Linked DNA regions of Homo sapiens: region 1 is reported to be linked to region 2. The links are microRNA targets in miRTarBase. Many come from high-throughput screens and were not tested one by one. Region 2 holds a microRNA gene; the other region holds the end of a gene's coding sequence.
What was found. Region 2 holds the annotated microRNA hsa-miR-185-5p (UGGAGAGAAAGGCAGUUCCUGA, at 5,233-5,254, opposite strand). A microRNA usually pairs through its seed, bases 2 to 8, with sites in the 3' UTR of a target mRNA and lowers its output. Matches are read on the target gene's strand: a 7mer-m8 pairs with bases 2 to 8, a 7mer-A1 pairs with bases 2 to 7 and ends in A, and an 8mer does both.

Region 1 (7,570 bases), not on the chromosome of region 2:
TGTGTCCCTACTATGTGTCAGACATCTTCTGTAAGTCCCCACACTATCCTGGCAAGAAAAGCATGATTATCCCAGTTCTATAGAAGAGAAAGTAGGGTCAAAGAGGCTAAGGAACTAGCCTGGGATCACAGATTTTTAACCCTAGTCTGTCTCCAGGATCACCCGCAGGAGTAACTCAGCTCAGGAAGCAGCTGCTGACGTGCCCAGCAACTCCTCACCCCAGCTTTCTGGCTTGGTTACTCCATTAGTCCCCACCAGCACCACTTCCTCCCAGCTCTTAAAGATTCTATTCCCAAGTCCATTTCTTTCACATCTAGAAACTTAGGCTTCTTTCCTTCCGTTACTTCCAGTGCTGGCTGAAGATGCAATCAAGGCCGCCCTGGCTGATTACAAATTGAAACAAGAACCCAAAAAAGGAGAGGCAGAGAAGAAATGAGCCCTCCCTCGGCGAAGCCTCCAGCAGGCCACACCAGCTGTTTCCCACCTGCTGTGCAGTCACCTTAGATGTTCAGAAGCCGCTTCCTCTCCACTGAAGAGCTATGAGATACGCACAATACTTGCTGTTCACGTTATGACTCTCATGCAAGCAAAATACACAGTTTCATTGTTCTGAATCCTGTGGTTTCTTTCAGCCCACTTTTATCGCCTTAACCTAGTTAATGTATATTTTGAATTGTGTGTATGACCTCAGAACTGAAATTGATAATGAAGTTGCAAGTTTTGATAGCCCGTGAAGTGCATAAGTATCTAATTTTACCTGAATTGATTTGGGGGGAAATTACCAGTAGAATGCCTTGGTCTGAATATTTGATAGAACCAATTGTTGTACATAAAACAGATTGCGCATATATATATATGTATAAAAAATAATAAAATAATGGAAGATGATGGTGTTCTCTAGTAAGCCTTGTCTCTTGGGCCCATCATTCACCCTGAAGTGGTGCCCAAAGCCCCTTGGGGTTCCCAGAGGTTGGACCGCAGTGACATACACAGCTCTCCAAGCAAACAAAGACAAATATACGTAATATTTTTTGGAACAAGGATGAAAGGAGATGATTATCGCTTGTCATTGTTCTTTGTGTGATAGTAGTTGAAAGCTCAAAGTAAGTCTTGAAGATTCTTTCTGTAATTTCACTGGTTGCTCAAATCTAAAAAGCATTAGCTTGGCACCCTAAAGCGGTAGACCAGATACATGAAGAGCACCTCGGGAATGAGTTTAAAATGCGGATTTCTAGGCCCAAGTTTCTGACTTCTGTCTGGGCAGGTAATTCCAGAGCCCCTGACTTTTAAGAACCTCTTGGGTTTTTTGTGGTCGTAGATGAGCCAAACTTTAGGGAAGAAACTTCTGAATGCTGTGTTCTGCATAGATGTAGTATCTTAAGTGGTTCATTCTGAACTATCTGTACCTGCATAGTACACCTAAGGTTGTTTAAAAAACATTCATCCAGCCGGGCGCAGTGGCTCACACCTGTAATCCCAGCACTTTGGGAGGCCAAGGCGGGTGGATCACGAGGTCAAGAGTTCAAGACCAGCCTGGCCAAGGTAGTGAAACCCCATCTCTACTAAAATTACAAAAATTAGCCAGGCATGGCGGCACGCACCTGTAATCCCAGCTGCTCGGGAGGCTGAGGCAGGAGAATCACTTGACCTGGGAAGTGGAGGTAGCAGTGAGCCAAGATCACACCAGTGCACTCCAGCCTGGGAGACAGAGCAAGACTCCGTCTCAAAGCCAAACAAACAAACATTCATCCCTGGCTTGGGCATAAGTCTAAGCACGGGCCCTCCTACCCTGATGTCTCCCTATTTTTAGCTACCCATAGTCATGCAAATCTCAATAAAGGATGCCCTATCTTCTAGTGAAAATGGGTTATTGAAATATTGACTGCCATAGTCTCAAATGTTCAGCTTCAAAAGTAAGATGTGTTTGTTTTTTCTGGTGGTGGTTTTTTTGTTCAGGTATAGGCTGGCTGCCTCTTAAATATACCTCCCTTGTTTTTTTTGTTGTTTTTTGTTTTTTTGTTTTAATGCTCTGGGTTCTGGTGGAGGGCACAGAACTTCAAAGACTGTTCCTTCTGTAGTCTGTGAAGGCAGCCACAGACCAGGGCCTTTATAGGAATCTCAAATTAGAACCCTGGGTAGAACCATGTAAAATTGTCCTGTGTGGCATGTTCTGCAATTTAATTCACAGTCCCTCTAGACTGAGCTTGTCTCTCCCTTCTTTATTACATGTGGCACCACCACAATTCCCCACCACTTTTCTTTGTGATTTTTTTAATTTAAATGAGACATTTCTGTCCCAGTGAACATCCTCAGAGTTGAACATCAGGAGGAGCTTATAAACAAAGCAATATTCCCAGAAGAGCCCAAGTCTCTAAACGTGGTTGTACTGCTAAAACAAATGGATATTTTTTAAATTCACATTAAAGACACTCTTTCCCCAAACAAATCTAGTTTGAGCCACATGAGGGCATCATGTGCCCTTCAGTGAACTCAAGTCTAGGGGTTTTTGCAGCCTCCAAATAGGTCTTAGCATCTCTAAATAAACCTGTCCATGGAAAACCTCCACAGATAAGTTAAAATGGTCTGTCAAGCACCTGTGCTCTGTTCCAGGCCCTTACATCTGTAATCCTGTTAATTCTCATGACAGCTGCCTGCAGTGGGCATTGATTCAAACAAGGACACTGGCTCAAGAAGCCAACTGACCCTCAGGCCAACTGGCTTGATCTGAGTGACCCAAAGCCCATTCTTCTGCCTCACCCCTCCTGGCAGAACACACCAGGGATTCAAACTGCACATCAGAGGCTCACCTGTGCCTTGAACATTCAATGAAGAAGCTGAACCAACACAGGTTGAGCCTGATGCATTCTCTTGGCCAACTGGCTGCCAAGCACCATGGCCCTCACGCCAACCCTGGCTCCCACCAGGAGCCTAATTAAATCCTGATGCCAAGTTAAATCCAATGCTCTGGAGGTGGGGCCTGGGCACTGGCATCACCTGATGGGCTGGGTGGGTTTATGGGCAGATGGATGGATGGGGAAGCAGAGGCTCCGAGAGGTGAAATGACTTGCCTCAAGGCACACAGCTAGGAAGTGGTAGAATTGAGCTCTGGCTGAGGTCTTCTGCCCACCTCCCACCCTCTCCTGAGTGCCACACTACAGCTATGACCACATCTCGGATGTAACCTTTCCTAAGTGTGATTCCTGGACCAGGGCCACCCGGGACCACATCCAAATGCACAGTTCTAGAACCTCACATTAAGCATTGTCTTGTAAAAACTACTTGGCCCTAGGATGAATTTTCTTAAAAAGACAAACAAATGAGGCACACTTCTCGATACTTCAGGCCCTTTGAACTTGAGGCAAGAGTGCAGACCTTGTGTCTATCTTCACGACAGAAGAGAAGACTTCTAGGTCCCACCAAGTTTTGGTGGTGTTAGAGGGCCCCTACAGATGAGTTCCAGCCCCAACCAAAGATGGACGTGGAGCACATCCCCTGCCAATGGCTCTTGGAGGCCTGTCTGCTTGCTTTCCCCACCCCCCGAGATGACATCAGCCAGCCCCTCAAAAGGCCACCTCCCCAGAGAAGATCATCTCCACCCAGGGAGCAAGCAGCAGGGCAGAGTGGAGTGAGCTTGGAGTGTTGAATCAAATGCTGGCTACCGCTGTGTGACCCTGAGCGAAAGGCTCAACCTCCCCAAGCCTCAGTTTATTCATCTGCAAAATGGGAAAGATAATAGTACCTACCTGATCAGGTAGACCTGACGATTAAATGAGATAATACATGGAAAGCACATGGCACACAGAGTTCACTGTTGGCCAGGTACAGTGGCCCATGCCTATAACCCCAGCACTTTAGGAGGCCAAGGCAGGAGGATTGCTTGAGCCCAGCAGTTAGAGACCAGCCTGTGAGGCAGGAGAGGTAGTCAAGGAAGTGACCATGTCCTCGAGATGCAGCATCCGTGATGACTGTACAGTCAACACAATAAGCCTCAGCATTCACATTGTAATTGAGCAAAGCTCAAGCAAAGCTATCTTCAGTAGGGACTTTCCCCTCTAGAGAGTGTGCGCACTTTGATTTAGCTGTCCTCAAACTGACCCTTTGCTCATTAAAAGAGTAAAAAACACACCCCTAGGTGGAGATTTAAGATGCGAATGAGACATGCAATGTATGAACAAGCACGTACAGCTACTGTGCGTGGGCACCGAAAGGACCACCCAGAACATGCTTACTAGTAACACCTCTCTCAACCCCTTATGAATAATGATGTAAAACCCCCACAAAGGGAGTCTCCCAGCAATAATCAATGCTGTCCTTAAGAGCAGCCTGCCCTAAATCCTGTCTCTCTCAGGGTGTCCTGTCCTTTCTGTACCTAACTTTCAAAATGTTCTTTTTCCTCTGCAATAAATTACTCTATGCTGCACCTCCCCTTTGCTGTGTGTCTCTTGTCTATATTCTTTTAAACTAAGAAGGCAAGAACTGAGATCTTGCAACAATTGTCAATACTTGGGCAAGATGGCAAGACCCCATCTCTACAAAAAATAAAAAAACTAGCTGGCTGTGGTGTCGTGCACCTGTCGTGCACACTACAGTATCATGCACCTGTAGTCTCTGCTACTTGGGATACTGAGGTGGGAGGATCCCTTGAGCCCAGGAGTTCAAGGATGCAGTGAGCTGTGATGGCACCACTGTCCTCTAACCTGGGTGAGAGAGTGAGACCCTGTCTCTTAAAAAAAAAAAAAAAAAAAAGAGGAAGGAGAAGAAGAAAGAAAGAAAAAGGAAAAAAAAATAGTTCATTGCTGTTATGGTGGTTCTCATTATTACAGGTAACACTTCAGCCCTGACTACATACTAGGCACTGTTGCTGGGTGTTTTATATAGATCAGCTCATTTGCCTCACAAAAATCCTAAAGTACTATCAATATCCCATTTTACAGATAGAGAAACTAAAAGGTAAAATGATGTGTCAGCAAATGGTAAGATCAAGATTCTAGCTCAGAGCTGTTTGATCTAGAGCCCAAGCCCCTGCATGCTATGACTGTACTTTCTCTACTGCTATTTTCACTATTACTATTTGCATTGGTATTATTACAGGCACACCTCAGAGATGTTGCAGGTTCGGCTCCAGGTCACTGCAATAAAGTAAATGTTGCAATAAAACGAGTCACACAAATTTTCCCAGTGCATATAAAACTTATGTTTACACTAAACTGGAGTCTGTTAAGTGTGCAATAGCATTATATCTAAAAAAAAAAAACCCAATGTGCATACCTTAATATAAACATAGTTTGTTGCTAAAAAAAAATGCTAACAGTCATTGGAGGCTTCGGTAAGTCATTATCTTTTTGCTGGTGGAGGGTCTTGCCTCAATTTTGACAGCTGCTGACTGATCAGGCTGGGAGTTGCAGAAGGTTGAGGTGGTTGTGGCAATGTCTTTTTTTTTTTTTTTTTTTTTTTTTTTTTTGAGATGGAATCTCGCTCTGTCGCCCAAGCTGGAGTGCAGGGCTGCGATCGATCTTGGCTCACTGCAAACTCTGCCTCCCAGGTTCAAGCAATTCTCCTGCCCGAGTAGCTGGGATTATAGGCATGTGCCACCATGCCTGGCAAATTTTTTTTATTTTTAATAGAGATGGTGTTTCGCCATATTGGCCAGGCTGGTCTTGAACTGCTGAACTCAGGTGATCCGCCCTCCTCGGCCTCCCAAAGTGCTGGGATTACAGGCACGAGCCACTGCACCCAGCCATAATTTCTTAAAATAAGACAACGCTGAAGTTCATCACTTTGATTGCCTTTTCCTTTCACAAAAGATTTCTCTACAGCCTGTGGTGTTAGTTGATAGCATTTTACCCATGGTAGAACTTCTTTCAAAATTGGAACCTATTTTCTCAAACTCTGCCACTGCTTCACCAAATTTATTTCCTTCCTTCCTTCCTTCCTTCCTTTCTTCTCTCTCTCTCTCCCCTTTCTTTTTCTTTCTTTCTTTTTCTTTCTTTCCTTTCCCTTCCTTCCTTCCTTCTCTCTCTCTCTCCTTTCTTTCTTTCTCTTTCTTTCTTTTTCTTTCTTTCCTTTCCCTTCCTTCCTTCCTTTCTTTCCTTCCCTTCCTTATTTTGAGTCAGAGTCTTGCTCTGTTGCCCAGGCTGGAGTGCAGTGGCACAACCTCAGCTCCCTGCAACCTCCGCCTCCTGGGTTCAAGTGGTTCTTGTGCCTCAGCCTCGCAAGTAGCTGGGATTACAGGCGTGCACCACCATGCCCAGCTAATTTTTGTATTTTTAGTAGAAATGGGGTTTCCCCGTGTTGACCAGCTGGTCTCAAAGTCCTGTCCTCAAGTGATCCACCTGCCTCAGCCTCCTAAAGTTCTGGGATTACAGGCATGAGCCACCATGCCAGGCCCACCAATTATACTTATGTAATGTTCTAAATCATTTATTGTTCTTTCGACAATGTTCACAGCATCTTCACTGGGAGTAGATTCCATTTCAAGAACCATTTTCTTTGTTTATCCATAAGAAACAACTCCTCATCTACAGACTCTAGTTCTAATTCTAGTTCTCTTGCTATTTCCACCACACCTGTCGTGTGGATTCTCTCTCTGTCGCCAAGGCTGGAGTGCAGTGGTGCGATCTTGGCTCACTGCAACCTCCGCCTCCCAGGTTCAAGCAATCCTTGTGCCTCAGCCTCCTGAGTAGCTGGGATTACAGGTGTGTGCCACCACACCTGTCTAATTTTTGTATTTTTAGTAGAGATGGGTTTTCACCATGTTGGCCAGGCTGGTCTCAAACTCCTGACCTCAAGTGATCTGCCCGCCTCCACCTCCCAAAGAGTTGGGATTACAGGCATGAGGCACCGGGCCCAGCCAAAATGTGTTGTTTAATTTTAATAGAGATGGGGGTCTCGCTATGTTACCCAAGCTGGTCTCGAACTCCTGGTCTTAAGCTATCCTCCTGCCTTGGCCTCCCAAACTGCCAGGATTACAAGTGTGAGCCACCACACCCAGCTGAAAATTTGTTGTTTAGTGTAGTCGTCTTCGTCAGTGATCATAGCTAGGTCTTCTGGATAACTTGATGTGATTCTCCATCAGCACTTGCTGCTGCCCCTTGCACTTTTATGTTATGGAGATGGCTTCTTTAAACTTCATGAACCAACCTCTGCTAGCTTCCAGCTTTTCTTCTGCAGATTCCTCACCTCCATCAGTCTCCATAGAATTGAAGAGAGTTAGGGCCTTGCTCTAGATTGGGCTTCGGCTTACGGAAATGTTGTGGCTGGTTTGATCTTCTCTCCAGACCATGGTGATGTGCAATCCACAACAGCAATAAGGCTGCTTTGCTTTCTTTTTTTTTTTTTTTTTTAGACAGAGTCTCACTCTGTTGCCCAGGCTAGAGTGTAGTGGCATGATCTTGGCTCACTGCAACCTCTACCTCCCGGGTTCAAGCAATTCTCTGCCTCAGCCTCCCGAGCAGCTGGGATTACAGGCACGTGCCATCGTGCCAAGATAATTTTTGTATTTTTAGTAGAGACAGGGTTTCACCATCTTGGCCAGGCTGGTCTTGAACTCCTGACCTCGTGATCCACCCAC
Region 2 (8,296 bases):
CAGCCTGCAGGAGGCAGCCCTGAAACGCATACAGAGCTGGCTGGCTCTCCTCAGCGTGCTAGTTTCCTGGGGCTGCCGTAACTAAGCACCACAGACCAGGCGGCTGCAACAACAGACACTATTGTCTCGCAGCATTGGATGCTGGAGATCCAAGATCAAGGCGTCAGCAGGGCTGGCTCCTTTTGAGGGTCTTCTCGGTATGCAGACGACTGCTTCTATCTCTGTATACACACCAGCTTCCCCTGTGCGTATCTGAGTCACCCATCACATTGATTAGGGCCTACCCACATGACCTTATTTTACCTTCATCTTTTTTTTGAGATGCAGTCTCGCTCTGTTGCCCATGCTGGAGTGCAGTGGCGCAATCTCGGCTCACTGCAAGCTCTGCCTCCCAGGTTCACGCCATTCTCTTGTCTCAGCCTCCCAAGTGGCTGGGACTACAGGCGCCCACCCCCATGCCCAGCTAATTTTTTTGTGTGTTTTTAGTAGAGATGTGTTATCCAGGATGGTCTGGATCTCCTGACCTTGTGATCCGCCCACCTTGGCCTCCCAAAGTGCTGGGATTACAGGCGTGAGCCACCGTGCTCGGCCAGCCCCTACATTCTTTAGAGTTCTGTTCACTCACTAGCCAGCCCAACACTACTCCAGTCCCTGTAGCAGTCAATAGTTCTTTCCTAACATTTCTTCCACCTTCCCTGCAGCATGCTGTCTGCTGCTGGGACCTGCCACTCACCCAACTGCAAAAAGGGAAAACACCAGACACCCTTCCTTCCTGATTCCTTGGCCTGAAATGACTTCACTCAGCCTTGAAGTCAAGCAGCATGGTGTCTATGCAACTTTGCAGTGACTCAAATCTGAGACCCTCTTGAAATGGTTCAAATCATTTCTGGTACAGATTTTAAAATGATGAAAACTTCCCGAGCAGTTGCATTAGAGAGTGGTTACACGTTTCATTTTAGATGTGGGTTATATCTCTGCCTCGTTCTCTGTGTGGATAAATGCTGGGGTGTCCTGGGGAATGGAGGTGTGGCCGTCCTGAGTCCAGGGTCAGGGGTGGCTTCTGGCCTCGATTTCCTGACTCCTCTGGCTGGTCCTCAGCGTCCCCTCTTCCCCAGGTTCTTTTTCCTCAGCTCAGGACCCACCCACAGACCCCTAGCCTGGCCGCCACTTTGACTTCTCACCAGCAGCTGTGACCCGCCAGCCCAAGCTGGCTCTCACTCACTGACGCCGTTGTCCCAGTTCTGCCGCCCGACCCTCCTCAAAGCCCATAGAACTGCAGCCCACCTGGACCCATGTCACTCCTCTGTCCTACCTGTGGCTGCCTTCTGTGGCTGAGTCTTCACGTCTTTGTACATTGACTGGAGTCCCCGCCCCGAGAGGCATTCTGACAGCATCCCACACTGAGTGACCCTGTCCTGGAGGGCAGTGCCAGGCCTGTGCAGCCCCGTCCTGGCCCACACACCTTCCTGCACACAGCAGCTTGGGTGGCATGAGAACTGGCTGGGCACCCAGGACCCTGCAGGGCGCAGCAGATGCAGAGCGAGGGGGTTACCTGTACGCGTTTTTGGAAACAGGGCGAGGATCAAACTTAAAGAAGATGATGCACATGGTGGTGCAGGGCGGCTCTGCTGACACAGGTCGCGAGGTCTGCGGGAAAAGGAAAACACTGAGTTGAGCGGATGGCAGACACTCAGGGCTGCCCTCCGAACCTGCAACAGGCCAGAACAGAGAGAACCACCTCTGTGGTGTCTGTACTACTTGCTGGGTGTGGGGGAACTGGACACCACACTCTTGGCCGGTGCCACACAAACAACTCCCAAACCCATGCACTCATTGGCACTGGCCAGACTGTCTCTCCACCACCTGCAACACCAGCCCTGAACAGAAGCATCCCATCAGCACCATGGTAGTCTTAAGGCCTGGACACACCGAGCTGGGGTGCCGAGGGGGTCCCCGGGGGGCAGCAGAAGTGAGGGCAGGAGCCACACTGTGAGAAACAAACTTACCCATCCAAATCTAAAGAATGAACTCAGACCCAGAGAACAGCGAAAGTGAGACTTTTAATGACAGTCTTGCAAGATCAGGTGTCAGACAGGCACACCCAGCACAGTTTCGACAAGCAATTTATCCCCTAGTACGCAGGTCCCTCCCCCAGTTCCTCATAGGCCGAGTACTGTGGGGTCACAATTTTCCCGGACGTCGCCTATTAATTGTTGGGTAGGGGCTTCAGGTGTTTTTTTGGGGGCTTGTCTTGCTGTATTTTGTTGCAGCCCACAATGCATTGCAGTCCTAGTTAGCTCAGGGACTTTTTAAGTATTTAACTTACGACCTAAGTAGCAGGCAGGCTGATAAGAACAGACAAAATGAGCTATTTTGCAGGCTAGTAAACTTTCAGCTTAGACTGAACTTCTTTGGTTCGGGTGAAGGCAACTAAGTGCGGGGAAAGTGGAGGCCGACAAGCACACATCAGCTATCCAAGCAGGGTGGCCTAGTATATCCTGTTTCTTCTGTAGTTTGCTGAGCTAAGCCAATTTAAGACACTTTGTCTTGGAAATAGACCACTGTATACATTCTTCCTTCAAGACTGTCCCCCACATGCACATCTCCTCCCCTGCAACAGCACCAAACCCACCCCACACGCCACCAGTGGGGGCAGCCCTGCCTCCGCCTCCAACAGCATGGCCCACTCACCTGGGATGCAGGCCCTACAGGTCCTGCTCAGCACACACACTCGCCATCCCACAGGACCCGAAGGCCCCACACACCCACAGCAGCTGGCATGGACACGTGCCGGGGACACGCTGGGTGACTGCACACTTAGCATACACCTCGTCCCCACCCAGGGACCTCTGGGGCCCAGAGCAGGCAGTTTTCCACAATGCAAACGAGTGCAGAACGGAGATTAGATTCCGAGGCCACCCAAGGGTGACACCCAAGTTCCCTGAAATGTGCACATGTGCAATGATTTAGTGACACGGCTCCAGGGCAGAGCCAGTGCTCACAGCTGGGACATGGGACAGCCAAGAAGCTGTTCAAATACTGAAGAGACCCAAAAAGATTCCTCTGAGAAAAGTCTAATGAGTGGGGACGGAGGTGAAGAGGGCTCAGTGTATGTGCCTCCATAGGCACGGGCATTAGGGATGGCCATTGGGGACCATCTGCTCCAGTGAGGAGCTGGTGGCTGTGCAGTTGAAGTATTGGGATAGCAATAAGCGCCACGTGCAGACGCACTGGGTCAGGGGGATGGGCAGCCATTTGAGATGGTCTGCTGGCCACCACTCTGCATAGGATGGGAAGCTAAAGGGTGTGTTGTTGCAAGGGGGCCCTGTGGGAAGCAGACTGTGGGGCTGGAAGTGGGTTGGGTCCCCTTGCCGGGTGCCCTGGAAGCGCCCACAGGGGGCCATCATCCGAGGGTGGGCAGGCTACTAGGGGCAATCCTTTTGGTAAAAACAACTCAAGATGCTGGATGAAATATGAAAACATCTTAAAAATTGCCAGGAGCTGATGAGCTCATGCAGCATTTGGCCAACAGTTCGGAGAGCGTGGCCCACAGAGGACAGCAGAACACAGTGGCCAATCCTGCCTGAGAGCGTTTGCCCACTGAACACACTGGGGCTCATACTCTGGTGGCCTCGGGGGCGAAGGAGACAGAAGACAAGGTCCAGTCACCCCCACAGGATGAAGAACCTAACAGAAGACTCTCCTCTAAGTTAGGCTGGGACTCCAAAGAGCGATGCTTAGGGAGAGATGAACTACAGCCGCAGCCACCCCCAGGGGTTATGGGGACATTGCACATAAGTGAAGGGAAGTTTCTGAGAAGCTGTGGCACAGCCAGCCGTCCAGGTCCACACTGGGGGTACAAGGACCCACAAGCCAAGCACAGTTTTAAGGGGTTCCAGCACTCGTAGTGCCCCTGTGCCTGAAGTTCTCTCTGGAGAAAGATACCTTCATCCTATACTTCAAAGAAGTCTCAAAATCATTTTTCAAAGACCAGAAGCAGTACATAGTCAGAAAGAACCACATAATGAAAGAAGCACCATGAGCAAGAACCAGCAGAAAGATAACCGTACATGCATCATCAACCAACCATGCTCTGATGGCAGAAAGAAAACAGACAGCTCAGAAACATCTGCAGGGCAAAGGAAGTGATGAAGAGCAAACTGGGTTTACAAAGCAGCAAAAGGAACTCGGTTTTTTTTTGTTGTTGTTGTTTTGTTTTTGCTCCTGTTGCCCAGGCTGGCTGGCATAATCTCGGCTCACCGCAACCTCCGCCCCCCGAGTTCAAGCAATTCTCCTGCCTCAGCCTCCCGAGTAGCTGGGATTACAGGCATGCGCCACCACGCCCAGCTAATTTTGTATTTTTAGTGGAGACGGGGTTTCTCCATGTTGGTCAGGCTGGTCTCCAACTCCTGACCTCAGGTGATCCACCCACCTCGGCCTCCCAAAGTGTTAGGATTACAGGCATGAGCCACCATGCCTGGCCAAAAGAACTCTTAGGAAGCTATTTTAGAAATGAAAGCTTCAGTGACTGCACATTAAAGCTCAGCTGTGGGTTTAAGAGCAATCAGGTGCAGCTGATGATGCAGAACCATCCCGAATGCAGTGCAGGAAGATGGGGAACACGCTGGGCTTTGGGAGTGCACCCAAGGTGCCACTGATGGGGTGGGCCCAGCACTCACCATGTGGCCAGAAGACACAAGTCCCTTTACTCTGGAGGAGCTGGTCTTTCCTGCACATGAGAACCCCTGGCTGCAGTCACTGGAGAAGCCCTGCCAGCTGGTCTCTACTGGAATCCCACTGGCCTGGAGCCCAGGGCTGCCCAAGGCCTGCTCACCAGGGACATGCTCCTCTGGGGTGTTAGAGAAGGCCGTTGGTCTCAATCAACTTCAGCCGACCTCAGCCCTCCCTGGGCTGCACGCCCAGCTGCTGGCAAGGCCATGGATGAGGGCAGTTCTGGCCACTGATACACGTAGGACAGACAGGCAGAAAGGCACCCCCAGTTCAGCTGCAGGACCCCACCATCCTAGCTGGCCAGGGTGCAGGGGCAGCAGACCAGCCCTCCAGGCACCAGTGGCAGGGAGGGCTCCATGGTCCAAGGGAAGGCCATAAACAGATCTCCGGACAGCCTGGCACTGGAGGTGTGGGCGCAGAGCCAAGGGCTGTGGCCTCGACGAAGACGCGGTCATTGGGAGGGAAGGACCAGAGGAAAGCCAGCCCCTGGGGAGGGGACCATCAGGAACTGCCTTTCTCTCCAATCCCTCGCCCCCTGCTCGAGCCAGGCCCACTGCCCACCGGCCCCCAACCCAGCTCTAGCCAGCAGGTCTCCCCCTCCCCCTGCCAGCTTCACCTCCCCCGACCTGTGACCTTGCCTTTGCCTGGGCCCCTGTGTGCTCCCTAAGCCAAGCCCTGCAGGTTCCCTAGGTCCTACAAGGTCCCCACACAGGCCCACCACAGCATTCCAACACCCTCTCATGCCTGCTGACTTGCCAGGCTCTGGGAGGGAGCCATGGATATAGTCCTTGTCCTTTTGGTCACCATATCTTGATCTGGGCGCAGGGCATGTGGGCACACGGGTGGCCAGGACCACTTCCCACAACTTCCACAGGTCCCATCACACCAGGTGAGGCTGGGCTCCTCAGGGCATCTCTTGTGCCACACAGAGCTCGCCCTCAAGGTTGCCCGAATTGGCCAACTCTACAGGAGGGTTGGTGTCCCAGGGAGAATCGTGCCTGGCTTTCCAGGTGAGGCTCCGCCCTGCCTGTCCCCACCCCTGCCCTGGGCTCAGCACTTGGGCCAAGCCCAACCAACTCTCAGCATGTCCTTGGCAGTCCAAGAAGGCCAGAGTGGTCAAAGCCATGCAGGGTTGGCCCTGAGGCCCAGGCGGCCAGAACCAGACCACAAAGAGCAGCTGGAGGAAGAGGCAGGCAGGAGGGTCTGGGGTCCAGTCAGCAGCCTTGCCCTGGGTCTCAGAGGCCACAGCCCAGAAGCATCTGAACATCTGCAGGAAGCCACGCCCAGTCTCTGCATCCTGCACAGGACCCCGCCTGCCCCAAGGGGCTAAGACCACCAGGGCAGCCTGCACACAACCACCAGGCTTGCAGAAGCAGTCAGATGGCCACACGCCCATCCTCTCCAGGCGGAAAATGCTTACCCCTCTCCATTCTGTCAACTGGCCTCACGGCCACCGGGATAGCAGTTGGGCAAGTAGGTTACAGGGCGGGTGGGGCAGGTGACGCAAAACCTGGCTGCCAGGGCGGGTCCAACCCCAACCGGAAGGAGGCTGGGCCAGGGCACCACAGGTGGGAAGATGCTGATGAGCTCCTCCCTGTGCTGTGTGCTCTGCAGCTGTGATCTCATCTCAAGAGTCCCAGGTCACATGGCAGGGATGGGCAAGGTGAGCCTGGAGGGGCTCATGGTGGGGCACCTGCTGGTTGGGCTAGAGGTGAAGAAGCAGTGAGCTGGCCACCCCGAGCAGGCACACGTGGGATGCTGGGATCAAGTGGGCCTGCTGGACCCTGCACCCACGGCCTGGCAGCCCCTGAGAGAGTCAGGATGGCCTCGGCACTGGATCTGTTCATTTGTAGCTCTGCTCTGCCCAGCCACGCTGTGGACACTCCTGGAAGTCAGCATGCTGCCTTCTGCTCTCTCATAGCAGGATCTGCTGATCCCCGCCAGGGTGCAAGAGGTCCCTGGGCAAGCTGGTGATGGGCAGCCAGCTTCCTCCTGGCCATGGTGGTCACTGTGTTCACATGTGGTCCTACTAGAAACATCATCTTGAAAGCAACTGGCATGACACAGGCACATGGCCAGGCCTCACCAGGCCCACAGGGATGGAAGAGCCCAGATATGTAGCCCAGGCTGACAACAGGAGGCCGTGTGGGCAGCAGTCGAGAGGAGCCATACTTCAAGACTGAAAGCAGAGCCTGTGAGGTGGGCAAATGTCCTGCCACCGACCTACGACACCAGCACAGCGCAGCAGGGCAACGTGGCATGGTGGTGAGGTTCCTGAGCCAGGACAAGAAAAGAAGCGTTGTTCTCATGGCTATTTGAGGAAGCACATCACCTCCACTCTGTCGCCCAGGTGCAGTCGTGTGATCATAGCTCACTGCAGCCTCGAACTCCTGGGCTCAAGCCATCCTCCCACCTCAGCCTCCCAAGTAGCTAAGATTACAGCTGCATACCACCACACCCGGCTAATTTTTTTTTTTTGAGACAGAGTCTCGATCTGTCACCTAGGCTGGAGTGCAGCGGCGCGATCTCAGCTCACTGCAGCCTCCTCCTCCCTGGTTCAAGCGATTCTCCTGCCTCAGCCTCTCAAATAGCTGGGACTAGAGGTGCGTGCCATCACACCCAGCTAATTTTTGTATTTTTAGTAGAGATGGGGTTTCACCATGTTGGCCAGGATGGTCTCGATCTCCTGACCTTGTGACCCACCCACCTTGGCCTCCCAAAGTGCTGGTATTACAGACATGAGCCACCACGCCTGGCCCTAATTTTTAAATTTTTTTGGAGAGGTGGGGTCTCATTATGTTGCCCAGGCTATTCTCAAACTCATGGGCTGAAGTGATCTTTCCACCTCAGGAAGTCTTAATGACTGGGTAGTATAAGTGACATCCTTTTAAAAAATTTTACAGCAACTGCTGGTTGGGCGAGGTGGCTCACGCCTGTAATCCCAACACTTTGGGAAGCCAAGGCGGGTGGATCACCTGAGGTCAGGAGTTTGAGGCCAGCCTGGCCAACATGGTGAAACCCCATCTTTACTAAAAATACAAAAATTATCACGCCTGTAATTCCAGCACTTTGGGAGGCCAAGGTGGGTGGATCACGAGGTCAAGAGTTCGAGACCAGCCTGGCCAATATGGTGAAACCCTGTCTCTACTAAAAATACAAAAATTAGCCGGGCGTGGTGGCGGGCGCCTGTAGTCCCAGCTACTTGGGAGGCTGAGACAGAAGACTTGCTTGAACCCAGGAGGCAGAGGTTGTAGTGAGCCAAGATCGTACCACTGTCCTCCAGCCTGGGCAACAGAGCAAGACTCCATCTCAAAAAACAAACAAACAAACAAACAAACAAATTAGCCAGGTGTGGTGGTGCGTGCCTATAATCCTAGCTACTGAGGAGGCTGAGGCAGGAGAATCACTTGAACCCACGAGGTGGAGGTTGCAGTGAACCGAGATCGTGCCATTGCACTCCAGCCTAAGAGACAAGAGGGAAACTCCATCTCAAAAAAATAAAAATTAAAAAAAAAAAAAAAAAAAGCAACTGCTTACACGAGAATGCCCTCTTTACAAGAGTCCT

Region 1: the mRNA of ISCU is a reported target of hsa-miR-185-5p. Seed matches in the 3' UTR shown: 7mer-A1 at 523-529.

Annotation. Positions count from the first base shown.
Region 1 is chr12:108,568,481-108,576,050 of GRCh38, forward strand. ISCU (iron-sulfur cluster assembly enzyme) reads left to right here. Exons shown (of 5, transcript NM_213595.4): 5 at 351-888. The coding sequence ends at 436. Among named protein-coding and RNA genes, the nearest start is that of ISCU, 9.7 kb to the left of the region's middle. RefSeq lists an enhancer at 456-605.
Region 2 is chr22:20,030,111-20,038,406 of GRCh38, reverse strand. It overlaps MIR185 (microRNA 185), which reads right to left and starts at 5,268; the gene lies at 5,187-5,268. TANGO2 (transport and golgi organization 2 homolog) reads right to left here. Exons shown (of 9, transcript NM_152906.7): 2 at 1,553-1,647. The coding sequence starts at 1,608. RefSeq lists enhancers at 4,151-4,220, 5,904-6,123, 6,558-7,254.